2 linked regions of the Homo sapiens genome follow. The main gene of each other region encodes a partner of the protein of the gene in region 2 in a complex. Each region holds a gene or a part of one and is shown on either strand. Other genes may lie near its edges.

Region 1 (10,602 bases), on a different chromosome or scaffold from region 2:
CCAATTGTCAACAAGAAAATTTGTAAATCTACCTATAAGCCGGAAGCGCCCCCCACCTTCGAGTTGTCCCACCTTTCTGGACCGAACCAACGTATTTTTTAAACATACTTGATTGAAGTCTCATGTCTCCCTAAAATGTATAAAACCAAGCTGCACCCTGACCACCTTGCACACATGTTCTTGGACCTCCTGAGGGCTGTGTCAGGGGCCATGGTCACTCATATTTGGCTCGGAATAAATCTCTTTAAATATTTTTGAAAATAGTTTGTCTCTTCGTAGACAATTCTGTGGGCTTGCAGGTATCGCCCCTGGTCAGCGGTGTATTCAGTCGCTGTGCCATCCCCCATGTGGCTACAAGAACAAAAGCACCTTCTTAAGCCCAAGAGATACAGTGGTTACTCCCATGAGTCCTTGGACACCTTCACCAAACGGCACTAGTAAGTGGCTCCTCTAGGCCGGGAGGAACGGAGAAGGCACAATACCAGCTTGGCTCACTACTCCAGGAGACCCCTGGGGTAAGGGGCTTGAGCACAGGCTCACCACTTCCCCACCACCGCCACCCTTATTTGGTCTGTGAAACTCCAGGGGGAGTCTTTATGGGAAGATGCATTCCTTCCAATATGTCATCGAGTGCTTACTTAGCCATCTCCTTTTCAAGACCTGGGTCTACTTGCTGGCCCCTGAACTGCTCCACACCCTTCTGTGCCTTCTGATTGTCCACGTGCTCAACTTGTTGGAACATAGGAGATAAGCTATCTAGGGTTCCGGCCTCTCCCTGAGACAGGTAGAGACTGCGTGATCAGGTGCTGAGGGGCTGCTATGTTCCGGAGGTCAGGTGACATTCCACCTGAGGCCTGGGGACATGGCATTCTATATTGACTGCTGTCGCTGTTCTCGCTGATGCTGGTTTGGTGTAAGAGATGATAAGAAAGCATCTTCCCTACGAATTGCAGGGAAGCAATTCTGGGCCTAGCCTCCCAAAGTGCTAAGATTACAGGGGTAAGCCACGGCACCTGGCCACCCTTCTTCTTTTTTTTTTTTTTCAGACAGAGTCTTGCTCTGTCACCCAGGCTGGAGTGCAGTGGCACTATCTCGGCTAGCTGCAAGCTCCGCCTCCTGGGTTCATGCCATTCTCCTGCCTCAGCCTCCCGAGTAGCTGGGACCACAGGAGCCCGCCACCATGCCCGGCTAATTTTTTTTTTTTTTTTTTGAGACGGAGTCTCGCTCTGTCACCCAGGCTGGAGTGCAGTGGGGCAATCTCCACCTCCCAGGTTCACACCATTCTCCTGCCTCAGCCTCCCAAGTAGCTGGGACTACAGGCGCCCGTCACCACACCTGGCTAATTTTTTTGTATTTTTAGTAGAGACGGGGTTTCACCGTGTTAGCCAGGATGGTCTTGATCTCCTGACCTCGTGATCCGCCCGCCTCGGCCTCCCAAAGTGCTGGGATTACAGGCGTGAGCCACTGCGCCTGGCCTATTTTTTGTATTTTTAGTGGAAACAGGGTTTCACCATGTTAGCCAGGATGGTCTCGATCTCCTGACCTTGTGATCCGCCCACCTCGGCCTCCCAGTGTTGGGATTACAGGTGTGAGCCACCGCGCCCGGCCCTGGCCACCCTTCTGAGGGCAATTCATGAAGAGGAACTCAGATGTTGAAAGAGGGTCTCAGTCCTTACTCTCTGGCAGAGCCCCAGAGTACCCACTACCCTCACCCGAACAGCCCACCATTATTTTATTGTTCATTTTTCTTTTTTTTTGAGATGGAGTTTCGCTCTTGTTGCCCAGGCTGGAGTGCGATGGCGCGATCTTGGCTCACTGTAGCCTCTGCCTCCTGAGTTCAAGCAATTCTCCTGCCTCAGCCTCCCGAGTAGCTGGGATTACAGGCGACCGCCACCACACCTGGCTAATTTTTTGTATTTTTAGTAGAGACTGGGTTTCACCATGTTGGCCAAGCTGGGCTCGAACTCCGGGCCTCAAGTGATCCGACCACCTCAGCCTCCCAAAGTGCTGGGATTATAGGTATGAGCCATTGCACCCGGCCTATTGTTCTTTTTTATTTTAATCCCAGCAGTTTGGGAGGCTGAGGTGGGAGGATCACTTGATGCTAGGAGTTGGAGACCATCCTGGTCAACATGGTGAAACACCATCTCTATTAAAAATACAAAAATAGGCCGGGCGCGGTGCTGCACGCTTGTAATCCCAGCACTTTGGGAGGCCGAGGCGGGTGGATCACGAGGTCAGGAGATCGAGACCACGGTGAAACCCCGTCTCTACTAAAAATAAAAAAAAATTAGCCGGGCGTGGTGGCGGGCGCCTGTAGTCCCAGCTACTCGGAGAGGCTGAGGCAGGAGAATGGCGTGAACCCGGGAGGCGGAGCTTGCAGTGAGCCGAGACTGCGCCACTGCACTCCAGCCTGGGTGACAGAGCGAGACTCCGTCTCAAAAAAAAAAAAAAAAAATACAAAAATAAGCCGGGTGTGGTGGCACGTGCCTGTAATCCCAGGTACTCCAGAGGCTGAGGCAGGAGAATCCCTTGAATCTGGGAGGTGGGGGTTGCAGTGAGCCAAGATTGCACCACTGCACTCTAGCCTGGGCAACAGAGACTCCATCTCACAAACAAAAACAAAAAAAAGGCTTTTTTTTTTTTTTTTGAGATGGAGTCTCACTCTGTTGCCCAGGCTGGACTGCAGTGGTGTGATCTCAGCTCACTGCAACTTCCGCCTCCCAGGTTCAAGCGATTCTCCTGCGCCAAGTTGCTGGGATTACAGGCGCATGCCACCACACCCAGCTCATTTTTGTAGTTTTAGTGGTGACGGGATCTCACCATGTTGGCCAGGCTAGTCTTGAACTCCTGACCTCAAATGATACGACCACCTTGGCCTCCCAAAGTGCTGGGGTTATAGGCGTGAGCCACTGCGCATGGCCTAACACCTCCTTTTTTAACTAAAAATATCCTGACCCACTAGTAATGAGACTAACATTATTTTAAAGTGTTTATTTTTTTCTATAATACATTTCATTCAAATCATAAAAGTCTGATACATTTTTTTCTCAAGAACAACTTACACTCATTTGAGATGCTTTTTCTTTCCTTTAATCTTATAGGATGGACAAAGATACACTTTAATGGACAAAAAACACCAGAGTTCATTACAAATACAGCTTCCCAGGCCCCACCTCCAGCACTTCTGACTGAGCGTCTGGGACGCATCCTAGGATCGCAAAACTGTAAAATTCCCCCAGTCAACTCCACGGCAGGCAGGCCTGGAACCACCCTTAGTGGAACACTGCTTAGGACTTGTCTGTTATCTACCAGAAGCAATTTCAGAAAATCAGGAGTAATTACGTATACAGAAATAGCTCTTCTATAAAATTTCCATATAAAAATAATGGCATTTATTTACAAAGTCTGAGATACTACAAAATAATATATCATATTAGGTTGTGTACTTCAATCTAATAAAGGAAAGTCTACATTGGGCAAGTCAGATGTGGTGGTTGCATTTTCCTCTTATCTCTCTTGTTTAAATTGCTTAAAGCATGTGGCACCACGATGTATCCTTCATGCAGAAAAAAGGAGAACTATATTTTCTGGAAATAAAACCCAATAGCACATAGTCAGAGTAAAGCATTTTCAGATGAAAAGGTGAACAACCTAGTGGTTTGGGCTCATGGCCCTTTACCCACCTTTTTTTTTTGAGATGGAATTTCGCTCTTGTTGCCCAGGCTGGAGTGCAAATGGCACGATCTCAGCTCATTGCAACTTTTGCCTCCTGGGTTCAAGAGATTCTCCTGCCTCAGCCTCCCGAGTAGCTGGGATTACAGGCATGCGCCACCACACCCGGCTAATTTTATATTTTTAGTAGAGACAGGGTTTCTCCATGTTGGTCAGGCTGGTTTCGAACTCCCGACCTCAGGTGATCCGCCCGCCTCGGCCTCCCAAAGTGCTGGGATCACAGGCGTGAGCCACTGTGCCTGGCATACCCACCTCTTTTGTCCAAAACTCAAGAGTGATGGTGGTGAACCAAGTGCGTGAAGGAACTCAGTACTGAAACGTGATCCCCGGAGTGCAGCCACCTGGGCAGCCAGTGCATATGGTTAGTGGGTGGTTCCATTTTTCAGGACACTGAGAGGTTGAACCTGCCATGGAACTACTGGGAAAACTAGAACTGCAACAAGCCCAGAGGAGCTATTCAGGAGAAAAGTAGCCCCATTGTCAGTGACGTTTTAGTATGAAAATCCTGGCCCCAGTGTGAACAAGCACAATCGCCAGGCCATGTGACATGAAGCTCGGCCATGGTGAAGTATGGTAAGTGACAAATGGCATGCATTGAAGCACGACAAGGGATGAGTTTTTAAATCCAAACGTGATCTGGGGAATTTTCCGTTATGATTCGACAGACATGGGCAGCACCAGCTGGTGTGGTGTGGAAGGACCAGTTGGTCACTGAACTTCTTGGGCCCCTGCCAATGGCCAGCATGGGGAGCCCTTGTCTGTGGAGGTCTCAGCCCGGGGTTTTCTGACTTGAGAGAGGCCTAAACCTGACACCACAGCCTCATGCTGGGGCTCGGGAAAGGAGTCCCACTTCTACCCCTCAGCTGTTTGGCACTTGGTGACACAGGACTGATGCTAATCCAAAACCCATCTGGGAGGACTGTGGTGACAGCGTGGCCCTCACGGAGGGAAGAAGCTCTGGGTTTTGGTGCAGGCTCTGCCACAGACAGGCTGAGGGATGGGAGGCAAGTCAAGCTCTTGCTTGTTTCCCATCTCTAAATGAGCAGGGTGGGAGCGATGTTATCCCCGATCCTGAGACCTGCGGCGAAGGGGCGAGGCCTGACCCTGAGCATCAGCTACGTTGGCCTCCAATGCAGCTATAAGCAGTGAAGACCAAAGTCTAACCTGCTGAAACAGCAAGGGGCAAGACAGCATTGACTTCAACAGGCCTTTTTTGTAAAGCAAAAGGTAAGATGACAAGATCCGGTCTTGTCTGAGAACAGCTGCACAGAATACACATTATAAATGAGCACTTTCTCCTATCTCAGCACCCTGGTGAATGGGTGTCAGAGAAGTTTCTGGACCTGTCAGGGACTCCCAGGGCTTAGCCAGAGGGTCAAAGTGTTGTGCCCACTCACTTTTTCTTCTTTAGCATACTGTGGAGTGAGACATGTGGGAAAATCGGATCCCAGAGATTACCTAAGCATCACTTCTCAGAGACGTTTTGGTTAAGGGACTACTTCCTGAGAAACGTTATAATTTATGTGGGTATTGAGCTTGAATTTTTTTTAATCATAAAATCTTAGGCTGGGCGTGGTGGCTCAAGCCTGTAATCCCAGCACTTTGGGAGGCCGAGGCAGGCAGATCACATGGTTAGAAGTTCAAGACCAGTGTGGTCAACATGGTGAAACCCTGTCTCTACTAAAAATACAAAAATTAGCCAGGCGTGGTGGCACATGTCTGTAATCCCAACTACTTGGGAGGCTGAGGCAGAAGAATCGCTTGAACCCGGGAGGCAGAGGTTGCAGTGGCTGAGATCATGCCACTGCACTCCAGCCTGGGCAACAGAGCAAGACTCCATCTCGAGGGGAAAAAAAATATTATGCAAACATCAGGTTTTTCTCTTCTTAGTAACCATGTTTGGCTTGAGTGGAAATTTAATCAAACACTGTTATCAACTGGGAATTTGAGGGCAGGGAGGCACATTGCTGAGGGTCATTCAAATGGCATGGTGCAGGCTCCTGATACATAGTGTGGGTCTTTGGGAAATGCATATTAGTTTTCATCAGTGCTTGGGGACCATTGCTTTGGGTGCATGAATATGGGAACCCATTTGGGAAAACGGTTCTTAGAAGTCCAGTCATCAGCTTCACCAAAGCCAGCCCATATGCAGAATACAGATGATCTCTTTGATGTAGCCAACAACTTAGAAACACGTAAAATAGTTCTCAATTTCTAATCATTTTTCTTTCTTTCTTTTTTCTTTTTTTGAGACAGAGTCCTGCTCTGTCACCTGGGCTGGAGTGCAGTGGCGGGATCTTGGCTCACTGCAACCTCCGCCTCCTGGGTTCAAGTGATTCTCCTGCCTCAGCCTCCCGAGTAGCTGGGACTACAGGCATGTGCCACCACGCCCGGCTAATTTTTGTATTTTCTAATGATTTTTCTACTGCATAGATTCAGTTGGAAAGTAGTGAATCTTTGTGACAATCTTCTCTTGGTTTACAGAAATTGCTGGTAGCTAACTTTGCTTTGAAGTCTTAAAAGTTCCCAAACAGACTCCAAAATGAAGGCTTGAAACTGGAACAGTGGGGCCTCTGGAACTTAGGAGAGATTCCAAGTGCATGTTATGGGACAGAGTGGCTTGTTAAGAAAGTATAGAGACATCTGTCTTTCCACCATCTGACTCAGTAAAACTGTCTCTTTCCCAGAGGGGCCTTTCCCAGCCACCCCCAGCCAAAGTAGCCTTTCCCAAACGGTCCCGCTACGCTGCTGCTTTCTCCACAGCACTCATCAATCAATCTGCACGTGTTCCATCTGTGATCAAGTTTCCCCAATAGGAGGAGAACCCAACATCGGCAGGGCTCTCGCTGCTCCGCCCCAATGCCTGCTCACAGTAGGTACTCAAATGCTTACTGAATGAAGGATGAAATCTTAAGATTCACTGTCCAACCCCCACCCCTTACTTACCACTAAGGCAGCACAGTTTTAAGGTCTATTTCAGACTTGTTGGGCAGGGACAGCCCATTTTGTTAGGGGAGGGAGCTTGATAGATATTAAAGGGCCCTTGAAAGGAAATAATTTTTAAAAAGCTAAATAGAGCCGGGTGCGGTGGCTCACACCTGTAATCCCAGCACTTCGGGAGGCTGAGGTGGGCAGATCACCTGAGGTCAGGAGTTCGACACCAGCCTGGGCAACACGGTGAAACCCTGACTCTACTAAAAATACAAAAAATTAGTCGGGTGTGGCGGCATGCGCCTATAATCCCAGCTACTTGGGAGGCTGAGGCAGGAGAATCGCTTGAACCCGGGAGGCAGAGGTTGCAGTGAGCCGGGATTGCGCCACTACACTCCAGCCTGGCGACAGAGCAAGACTCCGTCTCAAAAAAAAAAAAAAGCTAAATAGGCTCCCCACCGTGCCCCCCTCTCTCAGTGTGGTTATGGCAGGAATAGCTGAGGTAGTTCTCATTCTCTGCTAATCCACACTCCCTCCAACATACACACTGTGTGCTGGAGGGAGCCTAAGTCACATTTATACTTGGAGCAACTCTGCTGTCTCTATGACCCAAGTAGCCAAAAAGAGTTGTGGTTTAGCAAACAGTCAAGTTATAGATGTCTTGCAGGGCTAAACTGAACCACTCCTCTGTGAAATATTTCCATTTGAGGCCGGGTGCGGTGGCTCACGCCTGTAATCCCAGCACTTTGGGAGGCCGAGAGGGGTGGATCATAAGGTCAGGAGATCGAGACCATCCTGGCTAACACGGTGAAACCCCGTCTCTACTAAAAATACAAAAAAAATTAGCCAGGCATGGTCCCAGCTGAGGCAGGAGAATGGCGTGAACCCGGGAGGCGGAGCTTGCAGTGAGCCGAGATCACCACTGCACTCCAGCCTGGGCAACAGAGCGAGACTCAGTCTCAAAAAAAAAAAAAAAAAAAAAAAAAATTTCCATTTGAATTCTGATAGGAGCTACCTTGTTTTCAAGGACTGACTCTGGCATTATTTTTCAAATATGGCAGAGTACTGTTAACAACTGTAAAATTTGCTAATGGAAGGAGTTATCCTCTTTATCCTGCTAAAATGGTAGAAACCACATAGCTTTTTCTTCCCAGCACTTCTTTAAAGAATTAAATTGAAGGACGCCAAACTTGTGGCCATTGTCTGTAGTTTCTCGGGCGGTGGGTGTCGCTGAGGGGTGGAGGACCGCCATGTTGGTCGCTCCTTTCCCGCCCTCCTCCAAGGCCCACCTTGATCATAAGGCACAAGGTATACAAACACCACAACTGCTCTCACCACAGGAAATAAGCACGTGGAGGACACAGACTGACAGCGGGGAAGAGGAAGGCAGCCTAGTAGGCACCTGGGGCCCGTAAGCGCTGCTGTGTGCCTAGGCAGCACCGCCCTACCCACTGAGGGCCAGGCACGCAGGTCCTAGTGCCACTGTGCGTGTGCTAAGTAGAGCCAGCACTTCCTCCATGAATGACGCCACACGCCTGAAAGGGGGACAGCCACACCCTCAAGGGGAAAAGGCCTCTTGAACTCCCCACAATCAGTGTGTGCCAGCAGCCCTGGGAGGAGTGATCTGTGTGTGGCAAGTAACCCAGCGTGCCACTATAACAAAGAAGCCTGGGCATTGTGACCACAACTTCCATTTTTTTTTTTTTTTTTTTTGAGACAGGGTCTTGCTCTGTCACCCAGGCTGGAGTGCAGTGGTGTGATCTTGGCTCTACAACCTCCGCCTCCTGCGCTCAAGCAATCCTCCCACCTCAGCCTCTTGAGTAGCCAGGACTACAGGCATGCCCCACCACACCCAGCTAATTTTTGTATTTTTGTAGAGACAGGGTTTTGTCATGTTGCCCAGGCTGGTCTTGAACTCCTGAGCTCAAGCAATGTGCCCGCCTCGGCCTCCCAAAGTGCTACGATTACAGGCGAGAGGCACTGCACCCAGCCCATGGTTTCCTAACACTGCCTCACTTTGATCTTGTGTGAAATTGTGACTCAGTGCTGAGCTTTAGACCCAGATAAATGTTGAGGGGGAATACAGAAGAGAATTGACCTTTCTGAACAGCTCAACCTAGTTTCTAAAGGCAAGATTTTACTCCAGCGACATGTACTGGTGACCATGATGTCACTCTGTGAGCTGGCCTCACCAGTAACCCAAACACAACGCTGAGGAAGGAGACCATTTCCCACCAACAGCACACACCTATGGCTGGGGTGGCCAATGATGGGGCACCAATAAGGATAAGAGTCTTTGGCGGCTTTCTTTTTTTGAGCCCATATTTTATCAATTTAAAGCATGAGAGCAGCAGAGATGGAGAGTAGAGAAAAAAACAGGTTTCCCAAGAACTCTGGCAAGAATGTTGCTACTTGGTGAAGGAATGGTTATCATTAGTGCACCTGTCTTAAATCCTGAAATGCATCTTGGGACCTGCAGTTCAATATTTTGAAGACTACAAAGGTAGCAGTGGCTGTTGGCCTCTCCAGGTCCCTGCTGGGTCCCAGAGATGAGAAAGGGTGGAGTTAGTAAAAGAGGAGGCTGCCCCTTAAAGGACAGTTTGGTTTGGAGGGAAATCCCAATCCGTGCAGCTGAAAGATTCCCTGCAGGCCCCTGGGGACCTGCTGTCACCTCCCCAGTGTTCCTGACTGGTCTGAGAGGTGTGCTCCAGAACCCACGATAAGACCGAGTTCTCTAGAAACTGCCTCTATCTCTGAGTCTGTACTATGGCTTATTTCTGACAGAATGAAACTTTTGTATCAAAGGAGCTTCAGCTAAAGTTGAATGTTTTTCTTTCTCAGTTTTTATGGCCTTATTAAACATGTTTAGCTAGCCAAAGCTTCCTCCTCCTCACCATGCTCAGTGTTAGCATGGTGGTGAGGCTATAAAGAGGCACCACAGGAAGGAGCCTGCACTTCCCCCATGGGATTTAAAAAAGAACCAATTTGGGCCATGCTTGGTGCATCTAGCATAATCTTGGGACAAATCCACATGATTCAGGTCAAAGTTTTGGAGTTAATTCTCCCATTATTATTTGCTCCTTTCCAAAGCCTTAATGTGAAATTCAGTCAGGGTCTGGCCATGGTGGCAGGTGTCCCTACACTCTTTCATTCAGAGAAGGAGCAGCTGTGAATACACCACTGCAGTATTTCTAATGACATCTTGAGCCATAAACAACATAACTGCACTACCATATATCCAGGCAGTAGGAGTGTTCAACGTTTTCTAGTGTTTCTGTGAAACACTAAATATTGGATTAGTTTGAAATGCAATTGACCCCAGGAGTAGGCTCAATAAGGTCATTCTGATTAATGAAAATGTGAAAAAAGGTGACATGTACAAGGAAACACTGCTGTTCATATTCTTGAAATAGACTTTTCTTTAAGACAAAAGTAATGACATTTGGTTCATTTTCACAAATTGCACACTGGGTGAGATCATACAATTACTGCAGGGAACTGTAGGCAAGCAATTTGGTCATAGGAATTTGTTTCTTTGTCTTGTTTTAAATGAAAAAGCTATATGAAATGCATAGCTTTGATTAACCTAAAGATACAGTTTCCTTCTTTGTAAAACTCCAGATTTAGGATGCTGGCAAAGGCAGTGCTGGCAAAGTATTTAATGCACATGGAAATGCTATTCTATTTTGGCTTCCAGAAGTAGCCCTAGTAAATTCTATGCACCAATGCATTGGCTAATAATAATTTCAGTTTTACTATAAATTATCTAAATGTCACTTAAGTACTTAAGAAGTAGCGCTCGCTCCTTTCTAGAAGCTGTCTAAGGCAGCTGATGCGTAAAGCACCTCATCTAGACCTCCAACTAGTTCAGCAGTTCAATCTGTGCCCCTCAGCCACAGGACTGCCCTCAGTATCCCTCACTACACAGCTCCCCTC
Region 2 (10,849 bases):
CTGTGTCTCAGCACACAGTAGGTGTTCAGGAAACACAGAGTCCCTTCCCTAAAATCTAATCTCGACCTCTTCCTTCATACATCCTTCTGGGGGTCATCGAGCCCATTTCTTTCCTCTTTCCAACTCTGGATCCCCCAGACACCCCTACCCTGGCTTGGACAGAGAGGCCTATTTTAACATTTAGTGGTGAGGTCATGCTCAGCAGGGCTGAGACTTCTAACTGCTGCTGAGCACAGCTGGGCTGACAGGTGTTGGAGGTGGTGACAGCTCTTCCTGCTGTCAGTTCCCCTTCCCCCACTCCTGCCCCCTCCAGGAAGTCTTCCTGGGCTGATGTGAGGAGCCCTGCTCCTTGGTTTGAGGAGCCTGGATATAACACTCTTGCTTTCCACCACTACCGAGACCTGGAAACCATCCAAACACTTTACTGCTCATTCTTGAATGAGTCTCTTGAATATTCCTTTTCTACCTTCCTAACTGGTGAAATCCTATATTCTAGAGATTTAGCCCCATGCTGTCACTAGAGAAAGGGCCAGTCACTGGCTGAGACCTTCCACATGCCCTGAACCACGCCCCAACATTCATCACTTCACTGAATCTTCCCATACCACTAATCCCCATTGTACAGCTGAAGTAATTGAGGCTTGGGGAGCTCCGAGGCCTCCATCAATCCTGACCAAGGCTGCACATCCTAGTATTCTTCATATATCCCCCAGCAGGAGCACCAAGGGCAGGGAGAGGAAGGGAAGCTCAGGTGGAGTTCTACCTGAGGCAGAGGTGGGGCAGCCCAGAGCCTCCCCAGCCACACCTGTCTCCCCCGCCAGAACAAACCAGAAAGAATCCCAGGAAGACCTTGAACAGAATATCTATGCTGAGCCTGTTACATGCTCGTAACAGTCCTACCACATCAGTATTGGCACTGGCTCTCGGAAGCCAAAAAATGGAGACTTACAGAGAGTAAGCACATGCCCAAGGTCACACAAAGGCCGGAGCCAGGGTTTGAACCCAGGCCTGTCTGACTGCAAAGCCATGTACCAGGCTGCCTCAGCTGCATCCCACACACGCTGCCCCAGGATTTGCTAGAATTTGGGCCAAGGCCTGGGCTACGCCCACCTGCCCCCATCACTGCATGTACTTGCACACACACACACACACACACACACACACAGCCTTCTCTCTTTTCTCACTCTCCTTCACCCTTATTCTGCACTCCCAGGGTCCCAATGCGGCAAGTGTCCCCCTAAGGATACCTCCCTGACACCTTTGGACAGTGCCCAGAGGAAAGTCAGCCTATGGCTTGGGCTGAACCTGCAGAACACAGGTGGCAGAGGACAAGCCCAGGAGGATCAGCATCAAGGTGAGGCTGAGCACAGGTCTTGGAGTCAGACTGGCCTGGCTTTGCATCTAGGCCTTCCCCTTCTTAGCTGGGAAATCAGTTGACGTCAAGTCACCTATAAAATGGGCATCATTGTCTCCACCTATGCTGAGGATTCAGTGAGATAGTGCAGCAAAGCGCTTTGCCCATAGGGAGTGCCCCCACCAGGGAGCTGCTAGCACTGATGTATGGGGAGCACCAGTGGGAAAAGGGGAAAGTTCAAGGGTGAGCTGAAAAGAGACTGCGATGAGGGGAGGAGAGCAAAGGCTATGGCCACAGCCAGAGGCCAGCTTAGCCCTATCCTGGACGCTCTTAGGCAGCCCCTTTGGCTGGATCTTCAAGGCCTGGTCAGGACGCAAGCCCACCCTGCCAACCCCTATGGAGAAGAGTACAGCTCCTTCCTCAGGCAGCTGCAGAAGTGCAGAGGGTCAGAGATCACCAGGCACAACCCCCTTACGGGCACCACGGTGAGGAAACTGGGACTTGGGGAAGAGGAATTGACTTGCCCAAGGTCACGCAGAGTGGAGCCTGGTCTCTCCTAAGCCCTAAGTCAGATGGTGGGGGTAGGAGCAAATGTAAGGGGTCGAACCTTGCTTTCAGATCCCAGCTCTGCCACTTCGTAGCTGAACAGCCTGGGATTCACTGTCTTGCCTCTCTGAGCCTACACCTCCTCACCTGACCTGCCTTGTAGAGTTGTGTGTTAAAATGTTTATTTTCTTTCATGCCTCACAAGAGGAAATCTGGAAAATGTAGACAAATTGAAAGAAAAGGAGGACCGGGCGTGGTGGCTCACGCTTGTAATCCCAGCACTTTGGGAGGCCAAGGCGGGTGGATCACCTGAGGTCAGGAGTTCGAAGCTAGCCTGGCCAACATGGTGAAACCCCATCTCTACTAAAAATACAAAAAGTAATCCCAGCTACTTGGGAGGCTGAGACAGGAGAATCATTTGAACCTGGGAGGTGGAGTTTGCAGTGAGCAGAGATGGCGCTATTGCAAGCCAGCCTGGGCAGAGCTTCCTGCAGGCGTGAAAGAGAATGATGCCATGCGCCTGGCCAGAGGAGGCATGCGATAAAGGGGCATTCCCTGAGCCTTCCTCAGAGGACTTGGAAAGAGCTCTGGACAGGGAGCCAGGAGATCTGGGTTGTGGCCTTCATTCTGCCATTGAACTTGGTTGCCATCCTTGGACAGTGCCTGAGGTCCCTTTAAACAGAAGCTCCACAACAAATCCTGCTCACCCTGCACTTTGCAGCCCGGCCACAAAGCAAGCGGCCACACCCAGGGTTGGGTTTGGAGCTGTTCCAGGTCACGCCCTTGTAAAATGAGTAAGCAGAGGGCAGGCCTGCCCACGGGGCTGGGCCCCGGGCATCTGGGGATTGACAGGAGCGGGAGCTCTGGGCCTGGCAGGGCTTTAGGGTGGTCTGCTGCAAGGAGACTCCCCTGCTTCTTCACTTGTGACCCAGGCAAGTGACTTCCTTTCTTTGCTCAGTTTCCTTATCTGCAAGGTGCCTCATTCTGGACATCCTGACCAAGATAATGAACGTGAAGAGTGCCAAGCAGTGTCTGGCACACGAGAGGCACTCAGTAAAAGAGAGACCTTCTTGCTAAGATCACTGAGCCCTTCTGGGAGGGAGGTACAGACAGATGTACTTGGGCTCCTCTGGGAGGGTTCAAAGCAGTGTAAAACCACAGCTGTTACTGAAACTTCCAGTCTGAAAGCAGCTGGCCAGAGGAGAGTGGGCCTGCCGCAAAGCTCCCTTCCCTGGGGGGAGCTCAGCTCCTAAGTTAGGCAGTATTAAAAAAAGTCAAGGCTACATAGAGAAGAGCCTGCTGCCTGACCAGGTGCATTAGAGTAGCTAGCTCATGCCTGTAATCCCAGCACTTTGGGAGGCTGAGGCAAGAGGATTGCTTGAGCCCAGGAGTTTGAGACCAGCCTGGGGAACATAGGGAGACCCCTGTCTCTACAAAAAATAAAAAATAAAAGACAGAAGAGCTGACTGCCTTGTGAGTCCCATCACTCTACCCCATCCCCATCTCTGACCTTAGGTCACATCCCCTCTCTGAGCCTCAGTTTCCCCCTGTAACATGGAGCTATTAATGCCATCTATTTCACGAACTACAAAGATGTTTTAGGCTATAAAACACTGAACACAAGATACCCAATCCCAGTTATCCTCGGTTGCTTAACCTGTAAAATGGGGATAATACCATTCCTGCCCACTGCCCTCCTAGTTAGAAATCATGTGCAGGAAGGGTCTCCAGGAAGGTTAACGTTTTGAACATGGGCAAAGCCTGAGTCCACTGGCAGGGAGTGGTGGCTCTGCCTGCATCCAGAGCTGGCTGGGCATCCGTGCTTGCTGACTAGCACAGGTCTGACCAGATGCCTCTGGGGCAGTGGGGGGTGGTCTTATCCCTGTACCCGAACTTATTCACCAAACTCACAACTAAGCAAACCTACAACACCCCCTTCCTCTCCCTGGAGCCTGCTTCCAAAACCCAGGACCTGGAGCTGAATGTGGCTGAGAAGAGCTAGCCCCACAGCCACCCTGTGCACACACGCATTGTGAAGGAGAGAACACTGAAGCCCAGACTGGGTCCAAGACTTGTCCAAGGACACACAGAGAATTAGTGGCAGAGTCACACCAGAAACCAGGCTCCTCAACCACCACCACCTCCACTCCCCCAGGCTTTTCCCACTCCACCCCCCACCCTAAAGTTGTTTTGATTCACACGGGCTCCAGGAATTCCACTCCCACAAAACACACCCTGAGCCCAGGTCAGCAGGCAGCCTGGTGCCACTACACTTTGGGCCCTCTCTGGCAACGAGCCTGGGAGCTTGAGGAGAGAGCAGCCAATCTGAACAGAACCCAAGGGGGCTGCCCACATTTGTATCTGCTACATGGCTGTCTGGGAGGGAAGACTGGGCCTGGGGGAGGACCTAGGGCAGATACTTGGGGCTATCTCAGGAGCTGGCTGGACAATTTGGAGTCTGTCCATGGCAGATTGGATGTGAGAGACCCACTAGACCTATCCCTCTGTCTTACCAAAGTCCCACAGTGTCCCCAGGCCATACTCTTTGCCTGGACAATAGCAGGCACCCAGTACTGGTTTCTGGCCAAACAATGAAGTAATGAATGAATGGCGGCAACGCTGGCTGCATGGACTTCCCCAAGGTCACACAGTGCACTGGGAGTAGTGAGTTGGGTCTCCCTCCAGACTCGCAATCCAGTGCTCATTCCACTCCACTAGAATGGATGAGATTATTTCATCCAAAGTCTGAAAATGAAGGGGTCTTCTACTCAGATATTGGGGGCACTGGGTCCTGGAAACTGAAAGCTCATCTTCCCTCTTCCCAAAACTCTACCTGCTCCACTCAAACTGGATCTCAGGCACCCCTCCCTCCTTTCCCACACCTGGAAAAGCATAGGGGGAAGCGGTGGGGGCCCCCAGCATTACCGGCAGCCGGCCTGCCGGCAGGCATCGCACAACTTGGCCCTCGGGTCCGTGGGGAGTGGCGTCGAGGCAGGTGCCTGGCGCCGCTGCGGGAGGCGCCGTCTGCGGGTACAGCGGTGTGTAGTAGGTAGCAGTAGCTGGGCAGAGCTGGGGGCTGCTGAGGCCGGATGGCCACAGCTCTGTGGGGCTCATCGCGGGCACCACCTTCGGGGTCTGCCCAGCGGCCGAAGCCAAGGCCCGGGGCCCTTGCAGCATAGCGAGTAAGGCGCCCCCTACCCAAAAGGGCTTGGCGCGCCCGCGGACACCTGCGGGTTCCGGTGCTGCCGCCTTTCACACGGCCCGCGGCATGGCGCGGAGGCCGGGGGAAGCCGCCAATGGACGCCTGCGGGGCAAGGCCGGACCCTCCCCTCCTGGCCCGCGGCCGAGCAGAGAGCAGCGCTTAGAGATCGCCGCTTGGAGATCGCCCGGCGGCTGCGGTGGTGGCACTGCCAGGGGCTGTCTCGTCCCGAGGGCACCGCGACCCGGGACGCCCCGCGCTCCCCAAGGCCTCGGCACCTGGGGTCCGGCCGGCTCTGGGGAGGGGTCCCCGGCGTGCCCTCAAGCTCGGCGGAGACGCGATGCGCTGGGATGGGGAGGGGGGTCTCGACTGCACCGACTTCCTTGCGGCTCGCTCTCTAGTCCTTGAGTCTTTCTCTGCCTCTTTTTTTTCTTCTTTTTTTTTTTTTTTTAGCGCCAAACGTCGTGCCGCGAAATTCGGATCTCCCGCGGAAAATGCCGCGCTCCGGTTGGCTGCTGCGACAGTACAGGCTCCACCCCCCCCCCCCCCCCCGGAAAGAACGCGTCCTCGAGGCGGCGATTGCAACACTAGCTTCGCTGCTTAAAGGGGCAGCCACACCTGCTGTTGGTGCCGCCAGCCGCCGGCCGCGCTAGTTAGCAGCCGGCGAGACGGAGACAGAGGGTGGTTCCGGGATTCACAGTGCAGAGGCGGCCAGAGCAGTGCACAGCGCCCCGAGAAATGGGCCCGGATTCCCTGGGATTGAAGGGAAACATTTTGGCGCGGGGTCCCAGCCTGAGCCCAGACCCAGCAGTGTATTCCCCAGGCCACAGGCCCTTTTGTTAGTTTGCATTGTTGCTTAGCTAGCACATGTGCATTCATATCCCCTTTCCTGCTAAAATGAAGGCCAGGAACCTGTTCCCTTTAATGGCAGAGGGGTGAGGGACGGAGGCAAACTAGTCTACTTCTTTGTAGGGAAAACTAACATCTATTCAGCGCCTACAGGATGCCAGGCACCATGCTAGATCCTTACAAGCGTTGTTTTAGTTAATTTATTCCAACAATCCTGGGAAGAGGAATGATGATCCCCATGATAAAGACTGACAGTCTGAAAGGCTGGGTAACTTGCCCAAGGTCATACAGAGAGATTCCCTGATTTGAGAGCTGGCAACAGAATCTGGGACAGGTCCCAGCTCTGGAGCCCTTGTTTTTCCAGTTAAGGGGTTCTTCTACTCTCCCAAGCTGCCTGGGGGCACAGCAGGGTCAGAGTCCCACTGCAGAGCTTTGTCTTGTTCACAGTTGTATTATTAGGACCCAATACTCAGTAAATGTTTGAACATCTCTAGGTTTCTTTTAAACAATCCTTTTGTCACAAGAGCCTCTCTGCCTCATTCAAAAACCTTCATTGCTGATAATACATTCCTCATCACTCCGGTTTAGAGAGGCTCAGAGAAGCAAACTTGGGTAGTGAGTGGTAAAAAGTTGCTAGAAGCTGCTGCTAGATTTCAGGTCTGATTTCTTGCCTGGTGCTGTGTGATTTTTATGCAAGTCTGAGCCTTGGCATTCAAAGCCCTCCAGAGACAGTCCACAGCTTAATTCCTCATTAGATGGTTGAGGCCAAGGTGGCAATAACCCATGATGATTAAGAGCCCAGGCTTTGTAGCCAACAGCCCCGAATTCAAACCCAGGCCCAGACACTTTATTATTCATTGTGTGACCAAGGCAAATTTTGTAAATTCTCTGATCCTTGATCCTTGATTTTCTCCTCCTAATAGCACTTACCTCATATGATCATGAGGAAATCTCATGAGATAATGCATATAAAGCTTTCATCACAGAACCTGGATCATAAGGAGCCTCAAGAATTGGCAGCTGTTGTTATATCTCTGACTTTTTTTTTTTAGACAGAGTCTCACTCTGTCACCAGGTTGGAGTGCAGCGGTGCAATTCTCCTGCCTCAGGTTCAAGTGAGTCTCCTGCCTCAGCCTCCCGAGTAGCTGGGATTACAGGCGCCAGCCACCATGCCTGGCTAATTTTTGTATTTTCAGTAGAGGCAGGGTTTCACCATGTTGGCCACGCTGGTCTCGGACTCCTGACCTCAGGCAATCCGCCCTACTTGGCCTCCCAAAGTGCTGGGATTACAGGTGTGAGTCACCGCTCCCGGTCACATCTCTGACCTTATCTCCAGTGCATAAGACCCTTTTACTCTAGTCTACGTATCTCATTGGTCCTTTTTGGTCCTTTGAGGGCCAGCTTAAATCTCACCTCCTCCAAGAAGCCTCCCCTGCCTGCTTCCTCTCAGCCAGAATGGCTCTTACCCTCTTGGGACCCTTAGTGTGTTCTACCTCAACAAAACAAGGCTTCGTTTTCATACCTTGTTTATCAGTTAGGTTCTATGCTCCTTCAAGAATCTAGGTCAGATCTCTCTAGAATGCCCCTTAGCATCTAGGGCCTGGCTTGGAGTGCAGAAGGCAGGTAATAAATACTGATTATGATTCACTCATCTGCCTGGCTGCAAAGAATAGGAGAAGTTAATGAGATCTGAAGTCAGAAAGTCAGGAGGCCCAGATTAAGTAAGTCCCGCTCTCTACTTCCTAGTTAAGTGACACTGGACAGCCGCTGCTTCACTTCTCTTAACCACAATTTCCTCAACCATCAAATGTGGATAATGCTATCACTCAGTCAATTTCACATTACTTCAGAGACACTACTTAAATGACAGTGGTGGCGATGATCACTGATTTTTATTGAGAACCTACTATACACTGGGCTCTAAGCACCTTGAGCCCCTCCTCTGATCCTCACAACACTGCTCTGAGACGGACACTATTATTATCCCCATTTTACAGATGAGGGAACCTGGAAGGAATTGTGGCAGAGCAGGTTTGGGGAAGCAGCAGGGCCCCAGGGCCAGGGAGGGAAATGGGGGTGGCAGGGTGGAGCTGGGAGAAAAGAAGGGAGCCAGTGAGGGGCTGAGAGCCAGCTCTCTGTGGTTGAGTTTCGGGCAGCTGGGGCTGGCTTTAGAGTTTCACTGCCTGGGAACTGACTAATTCTTGCAATAGGTGTGGGGCACAGATCTGAAATCTGCCTCCCTGAGCTTGAATTCCTGCCCCATTCATTCCTAGCATTGTGATCATGGTCAGGTTGCTGGACCATTCTGAGTCTCAATTTCCTCATCTTTGAAATGGAGGCGGCACAAGTGACCTCTCCATTTACTGTGAGGCCTTAGTAAGGTGTTGGTTATAAAGTCCTTAGAGAAATGTCAGGTGCATGGTAGGTACTTAATATATTTTGGCTAAGGTTTATGTGAAATGGACCCGAAGAGGCCCTCACATGGAACCAGACTAAATACTTGCAGTTTCAGGCCGGGCACATTGGTTCATGCCTGTGAACCCAGCACTTTGGGAGGCCAAGGTGGACAGATCTGTTGAGCCCAGGAGTTTGAGACCAGCCTGGGCAACATGGCAAAACTCTGTCTCTCCAAAATACAGAAAAATTAGCTGGGCGTGGTGGCACACGCCTGTAATCCCAGCTGCTCGGGAGGCTGAGGTGGGAGGATCACCTGAGCCCAGGGAGGTCAAGGCTGCAGTGAGCCATGATCATGTCACTGCACTCCAGCCTGGGTGACACAGTAAGACTGTCTCAAAATAAACAAACAGGCCGGGCACGGTGGCTCATGCCTGTAATCCCAGCACTTTGGGAGGCCGAGGTGGGTGGATCACTTGAGACCAGGAGCTTGAGATCAGCATGGTCAACATGGCAAAAACCTGTCTCTACTAAAAATACAAAAAAAAAAAAAATTAGCCAGGCGTGGTGGTGTGTGCTTGTAATCCCAGCTACTCGGGAGGCTGAGGCAGGAGAATCGCTTGAACCCAGGAGGTGGAGGTTGCAATGAGCCAAGATCGTGCCACTGCACTCCAGCCTGGGTCACAGAGCGAGACCCTGTCTCAAACACACACACACACATACACACACACACACACACACACACACACACACAAAACCCTCAGAGTTTCTGCCGTACACGCCCTACACTTTCCCATCTCCCAGGCTTTGCTTACCTGGCTCCATATCCTCCTATTCTTCAGGCCCCGCCTCCCCTCCAGGCCCCTCCTCCCCTCCATCCCCATGTGCCCAAATCTGACTCATCCTTCAAGGTCCAACTCAAATGGAGTGGAAGGAGCAAAGAATCTGAAGTCAGACATCCCAGGGTTCAAACCCAGGCCCTGACACTTTATTAGCTGTGTGACCCAGGCAAAATTTCCTAAATTCTCTGATCTTTGATCCTTGATTTTCTAATCCTAATAGCACTTACCTCATAGGATTGTGAAGAAATCTCATAGATAATGCATATAAAGCTTTCAGCATGGAACCTGGTTTATAAGGAGCCTCAAGAATTGGCAGTTTTCTTACGTCTCTGATCCTATCTCCAGTGCATAAGACCCTTTTACTTTAATCTACCTATCAACAAATCTTCAGACTCCTTGGGGGCAGGACCCAGGCTTTGTTTTCACTTTTGCGCCTTCCTCCCCTGAGATGCCAGGCACAAAGTAGGCCTGAAATAAATGATAATAGTTCACATTTCCTGAGAACTTCCTAGGCGTAAACACCCAGCTAGGTATTTTACATACATTATTTTGTCGAAACCTCCCAACTACCCTGTAACACAGGTACATTTTGGACAGATGAAGAAATTGAAGCTGAAATATGTAAAGGAACTTGACAACTGTTTGAAGATGAAATCAGGATCTGAACTCAGATCTCTCCCAAGGCACTGCGCTGTTGTGAACAGTGAACTCAGCCCCAAAACCCCATGTGAAGGAGGGTACATTCTGCTAATGAACCAGGGGTTCCAGTGCTGCACACATTGCTGGAAGTGGAAAGACTGTGTCCCACAACTGGATGAGTTGGGGATGCTTAGTACTATTTTCCAGATGAGGAAGCCATGACTTGCCTGAGGCCACAGAGCAGGTAAGTGAGGAAGTTCCTGTTCCAGGCAACCCCAGATAGTCCTGGAAAAATCCCCAAACTAAAGCAAACTTCCATTCCAGCTGGTGTATCTTCTCCTGAAAAATTCCACAGATTCCCTGTGCTCAAAGTCCTGTTAATCAGAATACAAACTGCTTGACAGACACTTCCTGAAGGTACATATTCCCTGTCCCGGGCTCCTCAGCACATCACCTGTTCACACGAATCCCAAATCACAGAGAAACCAGATCAGAGCTATGGGAAACAAGGGAGAAAAATCCCTGCTCCATCTTCTTTGTGCTTTTCCTATTCTACAATAAACATGTATTACTTTGGTGATTGGAGAAAAAAAAGTTGTTTTTTAAAAAGAGAAACAAGGTATTGCTTTAAGGAAGTTCTGCTAGTGGTAACCTTTTTACTGGAACATTGTTGGAAGATGGGTTCGTGGGCTTTTCTAACAGTGACTGGCATGTAGTAAACACTATATGAATGTTTGTTAAATACATAAAATTCTAGGTGCAGGCCGGGCGCGGTGGCTCACGCCTGTAATCTCAGCACTTTGGGAGGCTGAGGCGGGCGGATCATGAGGTCAGGAGATTGAGACCATCCTGGCTAACACGGTGAAACCCCGTCTCTACTAAAAATACAAAAAATTAGCCGGGCGAGATGGCAGGCGCCTGTAGTCCCAGCTACTCGGGAGGCTGAGGCAGGAGAATGGCGTGAACCCAGGGGCGGAGCCTGCAGTGAGCCGAGATCTCGACACTGCACTCCAGCCTGGGCGACAG

The links.
Region 1: E2F2 (region 2) and TFDP2 share a complex: the UniProt entries of both Homo sapiens proteins name them as parts of the DRTF1/E2F transcription factor complex.

Annotation. Positions count from the first base shown.
Region 1 is NC_000003.12:141,941,449-141,952,050, forward strand, and holds the end of TFDP2 (transcription factor Dp-2), read right to left. Parts: 3' UTR 3,591-10,602; coding exon of another isoform or gene 3,562-3,590; 3' UTR 2,980-3,561; downstream 1-2,979. UniProt on the Homo sapiens protein: Can stimulate E2F-dependent transcription.
Region 2 is NC_000001.11:23,525,717-23,536,565, forward strand, and holds the start of E2F2 (transcription factor E2F2), read right to left. Parts: upstream 5,518-10,849; 5' UTR 5,078-5,517; coding exon 4,826-5,077; intron 2,704-4,825; exon of another isoform or gene 1,689-2,703; intron 1,355-1,688; exon of another isoform or gene 1,214-1,354; intron 1-1,213. UniProt on the Homo sapiens protein: Transcription activator that binds DNA cooperatively with DP proteins through the E2 recognition site, 5'-TTTC[CG]CGC-3' found in the promoter region of a number of genes whose products are involved in cell cycle regulation or in DNA replication.